Linked DNA regions of Homo sapiens: all the other regions are linked to region 1. The links come from fine-mapping of genetic effects on gene expression. A gene starts in region 1. Each other region holds a variant in brackets. All regions are shown on one strand. Distances are between the middles of the regions.

Region 1 (4,101 bases):
CTTAAAATGTCCTTAGGGTCAACTTACCCGGGGCTGGCGGGCCAATCATGTTGATCGAATAAACTACGTAAGTTTATGGATCACTTTCACTCTGTTTCGGTATACAGCACGCTAGAGGGAGGGGGAGTTAAATTCATCCCTGCTCTTGGATCTCCAACCTCGGCAGCAGTGGAACGCTCCTCTCCAGCATCCTGAACATGTTCAAGTTTTCCCCAAACTAAGTTCCTGTCCACTCTGCCCCTGTCCTCCTAAAAGCTGGAGCAAGCTATCTCTACCTGCCCAGGTGTGCATCCTAACTCAGGCTACCTGGCTCCAGCCCGGCCTCCGCAGTGACCCCTAAAGGTCACAAAAGCTCGGCTGCTGCGGTCAGTGGGATCTTTTCAGCTGCTCTTTTGTTCAGCACTGCTGATGGCTCCCTCCTCCTTTAAACTCCATCCTCTTGGTTTCGACACATTCTAGTGTCCTGGTTTCTCCTACCAGCCCCCTCTCAGTCTCCTTTGTGGCTCTTCTCCCATCCTGAAGCTTGTCCTCACCCTCCACTCCCCTCTACACGTTACCGTGTCCCTTCTCCGGTGGCTCTCTGTGCCTTAGCCAGGACAATCTTTCAGCTCCTATACGTCATCATCGCCTACCACTAAGGGTCTGTGCATTCTGTTTCTTCTGCCTGGAGCCGCACACGGCTGGCTGCCCCGGAACCTCACTTTTTCTCTGGCTAATTTCCAGAGAAATTCTCCACAGTTCAACTCACACCCTCAGCATCTGACACCACTCCCACAGCCGCATCCTACAAGTTCCTGGAACCCGTGCCTTAGCCTTTGTCCCAACTGTGGTCAAACAATTGTGCATCTGGTGCCTGTCTCCCCTGCTGGGGCATCAACTCCCTCAACGCCAAGATCATGCCTGGCCCAGCACCAGTCACACCCAGCAGCACCTTGCTGGCCTCTGAACCGATGTGGACTGAATAAATCCCATCCATCACCATTTCCACCACATTTCAAAGTAACTGATGTGCACCTCCAGCAGCCTCCCTCCTGCGCTGCGGAACTCTACCAGCTCCACAGATGCACACCTACAGCCACGCTACAGCTCCCGGCTAGAGCCCGCGCTAGGGCCCCGCTGTGCCTCTCCCTCCCCTCCCGGCAGCAGGGCCTCCCCCGCGAATCTGAGCTTCTCGCGGATTCCTTCCTTGCGCTGTTTTGGTCAACAGCCTCAGCATCTGCACAGACGCCCGCAGGAGCAGCCGAGCCCTCGCCCGCCTCGACTGCCCGTTTCGAAGCCGCCCTGGGAAGCCCCCGGCCTGGGTTCCCGCTCGGCCCCGGCCCCTGCCCCAAGGCCCCTACAGTTCCTCCCGGCCCCCGCCCTCCGCTCACTCCCGGTCGTCCCTCGCGGCTCCGGGTCAAACCCGCGCTCCCCGCGGTCCCGCGCCTCCGACGCCACCGCTCCGGCTCGCGGGCCCGCGGCGCGTTCCTCCCTCGGATCCACGCGGAACGCCCCGCGCAGCTCGCTGGGCTCGGCCTCCCACATCCAGCGCGCCGCCTGCGCCGACCTTGGGGCCCGACCCCGACCCCGACCCCGACGGGCAGAGGCGACGCCGGGCCACCTACCATCTCCCCCGCGCCGCCCGCTTCTGGCCGGCCCCGGCCTTCTGCGCAGGCGCGGCGGCGGCTCCGCCCTCGTCCTCGGACGGCCGCGGCCCTCGGCTCCGGGGCAGTGCCGGGAGCCGGCCGCGGGGACTCCCACTCCCGGCATGCTCAGCGCCGCCCGGGGGCCCACGGGAGCTCGCGCCCCACAGCCCCTGCGCGTCCAGCCCTCTGCGAGGGCCTTGGCTCGCCCCTGCGGGGTCCAACGCCAGCCTGCGGCTGCCAGGCCCCACGCCGGCCAGGAAGTGCTCGCCGCCCGCGGCCGACGGGACCCGCCCACGCCCCGCCTCTTAAAGGGGGCAGTGACTGCGGCTGGGCGGGAGTCCGGGTCGGCTTGGCTGAGCGGGGGCGGTGCTGGGCAGGGCGGCGGCCGCTCCCTCCCGGACTCCCGGCCTCCCGGCCTCCCTGGTCCCGCCTGGGAAGGGATGCAAGGAAGCCCTCCGGCGCTGCGCTCCGAGGCGGGAGACAGCGTCCCCCTCCGCCCCTCGGGTCCTGGCGCCTCAGAGCCCGGCCCAGGCCGCGGAACGGTGATGCTCGGGCCGGACGGGCGGGCGCGGATCCCTGCGTCCCGGTGAGCACCAGGCCCGTCCATCCGGGGCTCTTTCCCGGGGTCCCCTTCCTTCCCTCCCTCCCTGGGGCTCCCCTCCCCTCTCTCCCTCCCCGGGGCTCACCTTCCCTTCTTCCCTTCCCAAGGGTCCCCTTCCTTCCTTCCCTCCCTCCCTGGGGCTCCCCTCTCTCCCTCCCCGGGGCTCCCATTCCCTTCTTCCCTTCCCAGGGGTCCCCTTCCTTCCTTCCCTCCCTCCCTGGGGCTCCCCTCCTCTCTCTCCCTCCCTGGGGCTCACCTCCCCTCTCTCTCTCCTCGGGGCTCCCCTTTTCTTGCAGGTATTGTCTCCCGGGGTCGGGTGGTCTGTGTGGCCTGGGGTCCCGCTCCTCCAGGCCTTGCCTAGGCGCTCTTCGCTGAGGCCCACGTTCTAACCTGGAATGGAACCTGCGTTCCCACCCTGGCCGCCCGGGTGGACTCGGGGCCTCCAGGGCCGGCCGCAGAGATGCAGCCCTGTCCCTGGCCCCCCTCCTGTGACTCCTAACGGCTCCTCACGGTGTCCATGACCCAGGGTGTGGACGCCTGCGCGGGGGAAGCAAGACCGCTGCGTATCGGGTCCCTATTCACTGCCTGTTTTTCTGATTATTCTGTCTTCCAAATTTATCTTATTTACCGGCTTTTTCAAAAGGAGTGTCTTAATGATTGGATTACTTGTGAAATATTTGTAGTTTTTTTCTCCTACAGGCTTGACTTAAATATTCTAAAGCTTTTTTGTGGTTGTTGAGACAGAGTTTTGCTGTCGCCCAGGCTGGAGTGCAGTGGCTGGTCAAGGCTCAAGCGATTCTCCCGCCTCAGCCTCCCCAGGAGCTGGGGCCACAGGGAGCATCACGCCCGGCTAATTATTTCATTTTTAATAGAGACAGGGTCTTGCTGTGTTGCCCAGGATGATCTCCAACTCCTGACCTCAAGCAGTTCGCCCACCTCAGCCTCCCAGAGCGCTGGGAATACAGATAATTGTGTCGTAATACAGCAGTGGCATTAACCACCGCACCTGGTCTTAGGTAGAATTTGAAAACCTTTTTATTTTGAGATGGTTGTAGATCACATGAAGTTGTAAGGAGTAATACAGAGAAATCCTACAGAGTGCCTTTGCCCTGTTTTCTCCAATGGTAGCACCTTGCAAAACCATAGTATATGTGGGGAATTTTCTTTGATCAAATCCCCTGACCTGTTGAGATTGCACCAACTATACATGCACTAGTGAGTGTGAATCTACACCTGTGTGTCTTCTCAATAAAATTGAGATTTTTTTTCACTCAGCCTTGAGATACATCCGCATTGTTATGTGTATCAATTGCTCAAGATGCAGAAATTCTAAGAATTCATTATTTAAAAAGTAATCCCAGCACTTTGGGAGGCTGAGGTGGGTGGATCACCTGAGGTCAGGAGTTTGAGACCAGCCTGGCCAACATGGCAAAACACCGTCTCTACTAAAAATACAAAAATTAGCTGGGTGTGGTGGCGAGCGCCTGTAATTCCAGCTACTTGGGAGGCTGAGGCAGGAGAATTGCTTGAACCCGGGAGGCAAAGGTTGCAGTGAGCTGAGATCACAACACTGCACTCCAGCCTGGGTGACAAGAGCAAAACTCCGTCTCAAACAGCAACAACAACAAAAAAAACACATTACAGGAATCCAAAGTGTCTTTTTAATAACTAGAACAGCTAAAGATGTTTACTAATTTGCTCAAAAAACATGCTACAATTTAGTAGTCAGTAGGATTTTGGAGGCAAGTTTGAAGATAAAATGAAATGAGTTTGAATAAAGGTGATTTGTATTTTAAGGGTCCATAAATAATTTCAGTTTCATGTTATGAGTATGTTTCAGTGGGAAATTTTAGTATAACTACAACTAAAATCCTC
Region 2 (4,101 bases), 46 kb after region 1:
GTAGTCCCAGCTACTCAGGAGGCTGAGGCAGGAGAATGGCGTGAACGCGGGAGGCGGAGCTTGCAGTGAGCCAAGATCGTGCCACTGCACTCCAGCCTGGGCGACAGAGCAAGACCCCATATCAAAACAAACAAAACTGTGATGATAAAAAGCGCCATAAACACTAATATCAAACCATGCTACTCTGTCTTAAATTTTCAAATAGCTTTGCACCTGAAATACAAAATTAAGTTTGGAAAAACAGTTTTTAACTGTGTTGCTCACAAGCTAATTAACTGTATAAGTTCTGCCATGTGAAAGGTTAAAAAATAAAGTTCATTTTGGAAAGTGGGCTTCTGCTTACCGAGACGACAGTCTTTACATGAGAGTGGCGGGAGATGCTCCTGGACCCCCATAGAGTCTCAGTAGTCCTGACAGCGCACCTGGGCACCGTCACCATTGTCCCAACAGTGCACCTGTGCACCGTCACTGTTCAGCCCGGCAGGTGCTCTTCCTGCTGTTTATCCCAGAGAAATGAAGCCGTGTTCACACAGTAGCCTGTACACAGGTGTTTATAGCAGCTTTATTCGTATTAGCCATAAACAGTCCAAAGGTACTTCAGTGGGTAAATAAATGTTCAACAAACTGAGCTATGTCCATACCACGGAACGCCACCCAGCAGTAAAACCACCGGCACACACCTCCGAGAACTGCGCAGAGTGGGCAGGCAGCCCCCAAAGGCTGCGTACTGTGTGGTTCTTTTTATGTCACATTTATGAGGCGAGAAGATTCTGAAGTTGAGGAAAGGCTCGTGGTTCCCAGGAATTGAGGATGGGCAGTCTGGGGAGGGGCTGGGGATGGCACTCGCTGTCTTCGCTGTGTCTGTATCGGCACCTGAGTGGGGGTCTGGGGAGGGGATGGGGATGGCATTCGCTGTGTTTGCTGTGTCTATATCGGCACCTGAGTCGGGGTCTGGGGAGGGACTGGGGATGGATGGCACTCGCTGTCTTTGCTGTGTCCGTATCAGCACCTGAGTGGGATCTTGTGCTGTAATTTGGCAAGATGTTACCATTGGGGAAACTAAAGGGTAATGAGGACTTTGTATTACTCTTAAAACTGCAGGTTAATATATAATTATCTCAAAATAAAAAGTTTCCGGCTGGGCGCGGTGGCTCACGCCTGTAATCGCAGCACTTTGGGAGGCCGAGGTGGGTAGATCTTCTGAGGTCAGGAGTTCGAGACCAGCTTGGCCAACATGGTGAAACCCCGTCTCTACCAAAAATACAAAAATTACCTGGGCATGGTGGCGCCTGCCTGCAGTCCCAGACACTTGGGAGGCTGAGGCAAGAGAATCACTTGAACCCAGGAGGCAGAGGCAGAGTTGATAGAGCAAGACTGCCTCAAAAAAAAAAAAGTTTCCATTTAAAAAAAGTAAATTAACAAAAATTGTTTCTTATATATAATTGCCTGCTAATGTTTTGTAAACCTGGGAGGAAATTATGATTTGCTTCTGGTTGTAGTGATTTTAACTATTTCAAGAGTGTGACTTATTTAAATTCTTACATTGTTTTATCCATTCCAGAGTATTTTTCTCTTTGAAAATAACTCCCAGCAGAATTGTCTTATCTGGACAACTTCCGTGTTGCCCTCCCAGTGGCTTCTTCCATTACAGTGACTCTGCCCGGCTCTCAGGTTTTCTCGCTCTCTGGGCAGCCCTCACCGTGCACCTGCTGCCAGCTGCTTGGGGTGCTGGGCCTTCTGCACATCTGCACCCGATGCCACAATGTATTCTTTCCACTGTTCAGTCTTAGGATTCGTTTCCATTTAGAGCTGCTGCCCATTCTCGTGTTTCTGGAAGGTGCTTTCACTGCTGATGAGCCTAGTAGAGTGCCTGTGGAGGTAGGGTTGCAGGGCCACAGTAAACAGGAGCTCAGCCGTAGCCATGACGTGGGTTTCCCCAAAGTCGCCATGCCAGCCCGTCCTGCTGCTGTGCCGTGAGCACGCCGTGCCCCACAGCCTCCTTGCACTTGCTCCAGGAGTGGAGCATCTCAGGGCTCTGATGGGGGCTCCAGCGTCCACTTCCCGATGGCTGGTCCCTCAAGCCCTTTCCAAAGCTCAGTGGCACCTGGGTGTTGTCCTGGCGGTGTTCCTATTAAAGCCTCCAGGTCGTTATTCTGTAGGGTGAGGATTCTCTTCTCATTTGTAGGAATTATTTTTTATATGCCGGCAGATTTTTTTGTCCTTCTTA[A/C]AAATTTATTTACTGAGATGAAATTCACATAAAATTCGCCATTTTAATCATTTGAAAGTCAGCCTTCAAAATGTTTTGCCACCATCACCACTACCCAATTATATCCACCTCCCCAAAGGAATCCCCATGGCGCTCAGTTCTCCCCCCAGCTCCTCGAGGCCATGGAGCCACTTCCTGGCCCCGTGGGCCGCTGCTTCTGGCCGTGTCGCGTGGCGGCTTCCGTGTCTGGCTTCCACTTAGCACCACGTCCTCCAGGCCTGGCCGCGTCGCCGTGCGCACCAGCACTTCGCCCCTTTTTATGGCTGAAAAACATTCCATTCCAGCATGTCAGATATGTTTTTGCAAATGTCTTGCAGTTTGTGACTCGCCTTTTCACTCTCTTAACGGTGTCTTTTGATGAACAGAAGTTCTTAATTTCAGCATCATCGCTTATGAATTGTTTTCTTCGTGGCTATCTTCTGTGTTCTGTGTGAAAGATCCGCCTGCCCCTGGGTCGTGAAGATGCTCTTTACTGTTGTCAGTGAGCGTTCTGCTGTGCTTTTCTCATTAGATCTTCAGTCCACCCAGAGGTGAGCTTCGGTTGTGTTGGAAGTGAGGGAGTGGATGAGGATTCATTCATTCACATGCGTTTCTGAATGCCATGCGTTGAAAAGACCTCCTTCCCCCCTTCTATAGCATCACCCTGTCAAAAACCAAGTAGCCGTGTGTGTGTGCGTGCATGTGCATGTGTGTGTTCTTTGTGCATGGCATGTGTACCTGTGTGCATGCATGTGTGTGCTTTGTGGTGTGTACATGTATGCTTTGTGGTGTGTGTACATGTGTGTGCTTTGTGGCATGTGTACATGTGTGGGGTATGCTTTATGTGATGTGTGTACATGTGCATGCATTCGTTTGCCTTGTGTGGAATGTTACATGTGCATGTATGTGTTTGTGCATGCATGTGTGTGCTTTGGTGTGGCATGTGTACATGCATGAATGTGTACTTTATGTGGTGTGTGGTTTGTGTACGTGTGTGTGGCATGTGTGCATGCATACATATGTGCTTTGTGTGGTGTGTGTGTGGTATGTGTTCGTGTGTGTCTGCTTTGTGTGTGGTGTGTGTACCCGTGGCACATGTGCGTGTGTGTGTGTGTGCACATGCCCCTCTGACTCTGCCCACCTGCCCTCGGCTGCACCGCAGCTTGATCTCCGTGTTTGGGTCCAGCTTTGTTCTGTGCTAGGGTCGTCTTGGCTCTATTCGTGCTCTTTCCAAATTCCACTCGAGTTTTTAGATTCAGCTGGTCAGTTTCACACACATGAGTCTCTTGGCGCTCCTGTGCGTCTGTTGGCCAGGGGAGGGAGCATCCGCCGCTCCGCCGTGCTGAGCCCTTGGCGCTGTCATCTGAGTCTTCCGTCTTTCGTGGGTCTCTGTGTCTTGCAGTGTCAGGTGCAGGCCTTCTTTTGGGTTGAATCCTCAGGATGTGATGTTTTTGTTGCCATTATAAATCGTAGTTCTTTACAAGTTTCTTTTCTTTTCGTCTGATGCTGCTATCGTCTACAGTTTTGTTTTCTCAAGATAAAAATCATCTTTCAGGTTGGCCGGTGTCAGCCGTGCGTCATCCGGAAGGCTGCCATAAGCCTGCGTTTCGCAGAGCTGCGCTGAGGCTCCCGTGTCGCGGCCGTCCGGCCGGCGCGCTGATGTGGCTGCAAACCTGGGTATCAGATCAGCCGCCGTGGACACGCCGATGCTTCTCGCTGGCTTCGTGCCCTCCCGGGGCTGTTGCTTGTCGTCCTGTCGCTTTCTCTCTGCTTTGAGGCTGGTAGTGGGAATGCGTTTCTAACACTCCCACCGGGCTATTCTGATTCAAGGTCAAGAAAATGTATCACAAATATTT
Region 3 (4,101 bases), 390 kb after region 1:
TATCGGGGTTGACCTGCTAACATCATTGCCTCTGGCTGAGGAGGGGAAACCCACTTTGTACTTTATACTTTTGTTTCTGCACCCATTGATTTTTAAGCAAAAGCATGTATTACTATCCTAACCAACATAATTGAAAATTTCCAGAGAGCCCCTTCTGAGGGGGAGACTTTCATGGAAACTCAGAGAGGCTTCCATTAGTGACGGGAGAAACAGGCCTGGCCCTCCACACGGACACGCATCCGTCACAGCCAAGGATGAAGGCCTGTGTGCTGTGTGGTTGTCTTAGGCTGTTTTTATGAGACGGAGTCTTGCTCCGTCGCCCAGGCTGGAGTGCAGTGGCGTGATCTTGGCTCACTGCAAGCTCCACCTCCCAGGTTTCACGCCATTCTCCTGCCTCAGCCTCCCGAGAAGCTGGGACTACAGGCGCCCACCACCACGCCCGGCTAATTTTTTGTATTTTTTTAGTAGAGACGGGGTTTCACTGTGTTAGCCAGGATGGTCTCGATGTCCTGACCTCGTGATCCGCCCACCTCGTCCTCCCAATACTGGGTGAATTATCACACTTCTTTCTGACCATTCACTTTTCTGTCTTTGTAACAGCCATCAGGGTCTTTGAGAAAGTTTTGTAACTTAGTTCATTGATTTGGAAAATTATGCCAATAACCACCCTTCCTAGCAAACTGTCCCTGAAGAAGACCACGACAGTTCATTTAGTTTTCACAAACAGTATTAGGAGATGACTTGGAATTTTCTGGGGAAATCATTGAATATACTTCTGAGCGCAAACCCAGTGGCACAGGGAGTCCTTGGTCGCCAGGGCTGTCATCATTTCTGGAGGAGCCGTGTTGCACCTGGGGCCACTGAGACCCAGAAGGTGAGGCCGTCTGATGGGGCTATGGGGAGAATCCCACAAAACCACCATCACACACCCACGTTGGCCCCAGAGGTCCACTTTGTCATTTAAAGCTTACATAATAGAAATAGGGGACCCCTTGAAAACCTTTTCCTCTCTGATTTGGGAAGCTGAACTCTTTTTTCATGACACCAAAGCAAACGGCTTAGCAGTCAGGGTGGGGCTCTACTTTCCTCCCTCCTAGCCTGGTAGGAAAGTGCGTCCATGCGATTGGTGAATCAGAATGGGCCTTCTTCCTGCATATCATTTCTCCACTCCTTTCTTCTAATGGTGGGTGCCTCAGATCTGTCCTGTGGGAGAAAGGACTTCGCGGAGCTCTGTGGGGGCTGCAGCTGAGGAGAGTGCTGGAGTCTTCAGTCGGATCTGCCTTTCTTGCTGACTCAAGAAACAGTAAAAGGTGACAGGAAGGTGGCCCCGGAACAAATGGAGTCCCGCAGTGGCTCCAGCCATGTGGAATAAACCAAATTAGTGCTGGCAGAAACTGAACCTGGATTATGAGTGCTGGCAAAAATGTAAACAAAATTATTAAAAGAAAATTGAACAAACTGCAGTTTTCATCTCCTGTTAAGTGCTAAAGTGTGCCAAGTCCAACTTGTAAACAAACTAATGAGCTTGGCTTTAATTAATGTTAAAAAAGCTGGTTCGACAGAGCCTGAAGAGGCCTATAAATATTATTTTGAAGAGTATCCAAGACACTTAGAGCAGCTGTGTGAGCCTTTAGAATTGACATAGCTATTTTAATATATGCAGAGCTATTTTTAACCTTTCAGCACAGGCCAGTCAGAGTGGGAGCCCAAGGGCAGTGAAGCCGGGGTGCCCATCAGCTCCATCAGCCAGAATGCAACCTTGAAGGTCAAGGGCATTGGCGCAGCAGTGTCCTGGGGCAGTTGGAAAAGTACCACAAACCGGGGAGCTCAAAACCACAGAAATGTATCTTCTCTCAGCTCTGGAGGCCTGAAGTCCAAAATCAAGGTGCCAGCAAGGCTGTGCTCCCCCAACAGCTGGGAGGGTCCTCCCTGCCTCCTCAGCCTCCGAAGCTCCAGATGCTCCCGGGTTTGTGGATTC[A/G]CAGCTTCCATCTCTGCCTCCACCACCACATGGGCTCCTGTGTCACCCTTCTTCTTATAAGGACACAGTCACGACTTCATCCTAACTACAGTGGTCCTCGTTGTCTTCCATCTCACTTTTCTGGGTTTTAGTCACTCACGGTCAACCACGCTCCACAAATATTACATGGCTACACTTGTGCTTTGGGGGCATTATTAAGTAAAAGAAGGGTGACCTGAACACAAGCACTGTGACACCACAGCCCATCTGGTCACTAGGATGACTGCCAAGTGGCCAATGGCAACCCAGGCTTGGATGGGATGGCTCGGAACAGAATATAACTGAACACTGAGGAATTTTCTATTTCTGGAATTTTCCATCTACATCACAATGCCTGCATCTCTCACCTCCCTTCATCTCACCACGTGGCATTTTACAGCACTTTACATCATCACAAGAAGAAGGGAAAATACAGTATAGTAAGATATGTTGAGAGCGAGAGACCACATTCACATAACTTTTATTACAGTATATTGTTATAACTGTTCTATTTTATCATTGTTATTAATCTATTATTGTGCCTCATTTATAAATTAAACTTTATCGTATTTCTGTACACATGGGAAAAAACACAGTGTATATAGGGTTAGGTACTATCTGAGGTTTCAGACATCCACCAGGGCCTTGGAACATTTTCCCCAGGATAAGGGGTCACTATGGTAATTAGATCTGCAATGACCTTATTTCCAAATGATGTCATATTCTGAGGTGCTGAAGACTCAGATTTTAACATGTATTTTTGGGGAACACAACCAACCCATACCTTGAGTGACAAGGTAGCAGAGCTGGGAGGGACCTCAGGGGGAAGCATCTCTGCCCTGCTTGCTCCAAAGCTGCCACCTCAGCTGTATATCTCCCCAGGGTGGCGGGGCTGGAAGTGCATTCATCTCCTGGATGCTCTGTGGTCCGGGGGCAGCTCCAGGCAGGAGCATCCAGCTACCTTCGCAGGAAGTGGCCTCACTAGAGTAGAGGTGATGGGGTGGGAGCCGAGCCTCAACACGGGGGCCCTGGTGCGCATCCCTCTACCTCCTCAGAGGAGCCCACAGTCCAGCCTCCATCACACAGCCCAGAACGTGCCCTGGAAGAGCAACAAAACCTGGAGGCTCTGGCTGGAATGACCAGGGCTACAGCGTGCATGAAAAACAGATGACCGTGTTCTGTGGCAGCTGCTGCATGTGGGGGCCTCTTTGTCACAGCAGCTTAGACTTGGCCCTGAGCAGCACAGGGCAGGGTTGAGATGTGAGTCCGGTGTCTTGGACCTCAGACTCCTATGATGCTGCGAGGCCGCTGGTGGCTGGACTGTGGGGACCCACAGCCTCTCACACATTCACTCAACAGCCCCATGTTGTGCCTCCCTTGCTGGCCATGTCTGAGGCAAGCAACCACGGTCCCCATGGCCCTGGTGCCCTCACCCTATGGTGCCAGCTCAGCCATGTGGGTGTCTCCAGGATGCCATCGCCAGGGAGTTCACATGAGGTCAGCCTGCCAGTTGGGGCTGCGAAAGTCGGGCTCACATCCTGGCCAAAGCCTCAGAGTTGATGCTTCCTGTGTCTGTGTCTGAGAAATGAAAAAAACACAATAGGACAATGCTAATAAAAGGACCTTTAACATCTGGGGAGGAGAAGCGGCCAGGTGTTTTTTGAGTTAGAGGAAAATTACCCTAAAGGTTTTGCCACTTGTTTGACATTTTTGGGCTTGGTTCCCACAACCCAAGAGGGCCTGGCCTCCAGGCAGGGACATGTCTGTTCTAAGAGTGACTGTGTGAGAGCCCAGCCATGCCTGAAAATGGCAACAAGGTCGCCACACACTCCCTCCACCTTCCAAAATGAAACCAGGTTCTTGGGCCAAGCAAGAAAACTGGAATGCTGGCACAGGAGGTGTTTTCGACCTGCCTGCTTATCTAAGTTTCACATGCAGCTCCATTCATCATAGCAAGTGGTTTCCCTGCTGAACAAGGCAGGCAGGTCTGACAAACACAGTGGCTGCCAGATTCAGCAACACCGCTGATGGGTGGGGGACCATGCCTGTCTTTCCTTGTGATGGGGGAGAGACTAGTGTTTGGAGTTTGAGTGGGTTAGATGGCC

Alleles and levels. Positions count from the first base shown, and alleles are read on the strand shown. Sizes are in standard deviations (SD) of each study's normalised expression. Not every link is listed here.
For the expression in caudate of the gene that starts at base 1,649 in region 1, allele A in region 2 goes with a higher level than allele C (moderate effect, 0.41 SD a copy in GTEx).

Evidence for each region. PIP is the estimated chance that this variant, and not a neighbour inherited with it, causes the effect. A credible set is the group of variants that fine-mapping cannot tell apart.
Region 2: its variant is the best candidate, but not a certain one, in a credible set for the expression of DCUN1D2 in caudate (GTEx, PIP 0.87).
Region 3: its variant is the best candidate, but not a certain one, in a credible set for the expression of DCUN1D2 in nucleus accumbens (GTEx, PIP 0.77).

The regions. Positions count from the first base shown.
Region 1 is chr13:113,489,063-113,493,163 of GRCh38, forward strand. It overlaps DCUN1D2 (defective in cullin neddylation 1 domain containing 2), which reads right to left and starts at 1,649. Exons shown (of 7, transcript NM_001014283.2): 1 at 1,605-1,649. The coding sequence starts at 1,607. It overlaps SLC9D1 (solute carrier family 9 member D1), which reads left to right and starts at 1,959. Exons shown (of 13, transcript NM_017905.6): 1 at 1,959-2,211. RefSeq lists an enhancer at 820-1,119 and a silencer at 1,350-2,269.
Region 2 is chr13:113,534,960-113,539,060 of GRCh38, forward strand. All of the region lies in intron 9 of SLC9D1 (solute carrier family 9 member D1), which reads left to right. Among named protein-coding and RNA genes, the nearest start is that of SLC9D1, 46 kb to the left of the region's middle. RefSeq lists a silencer at 3,491-3,679. The variant A/C (reference allele first, on the strand shown) is at 2,228.
Region 3 is chr13:113,877,919-113,882,019 of GRCh38, forward strand. It overlaps LINC00454 (long intergenic non-protein coding RNA 454), which reads right to left. Exons shown (of 3, transcript NR_047035.1): 2 at 3,430-3,574; 3 at 710-1,414. Among named protein-coding and RNA genes, the nearest start is that of LINC00454, 3.5 kb to the right of the region's middle. The variant A/G (reference allele first, on the strand shown) is at 1,979.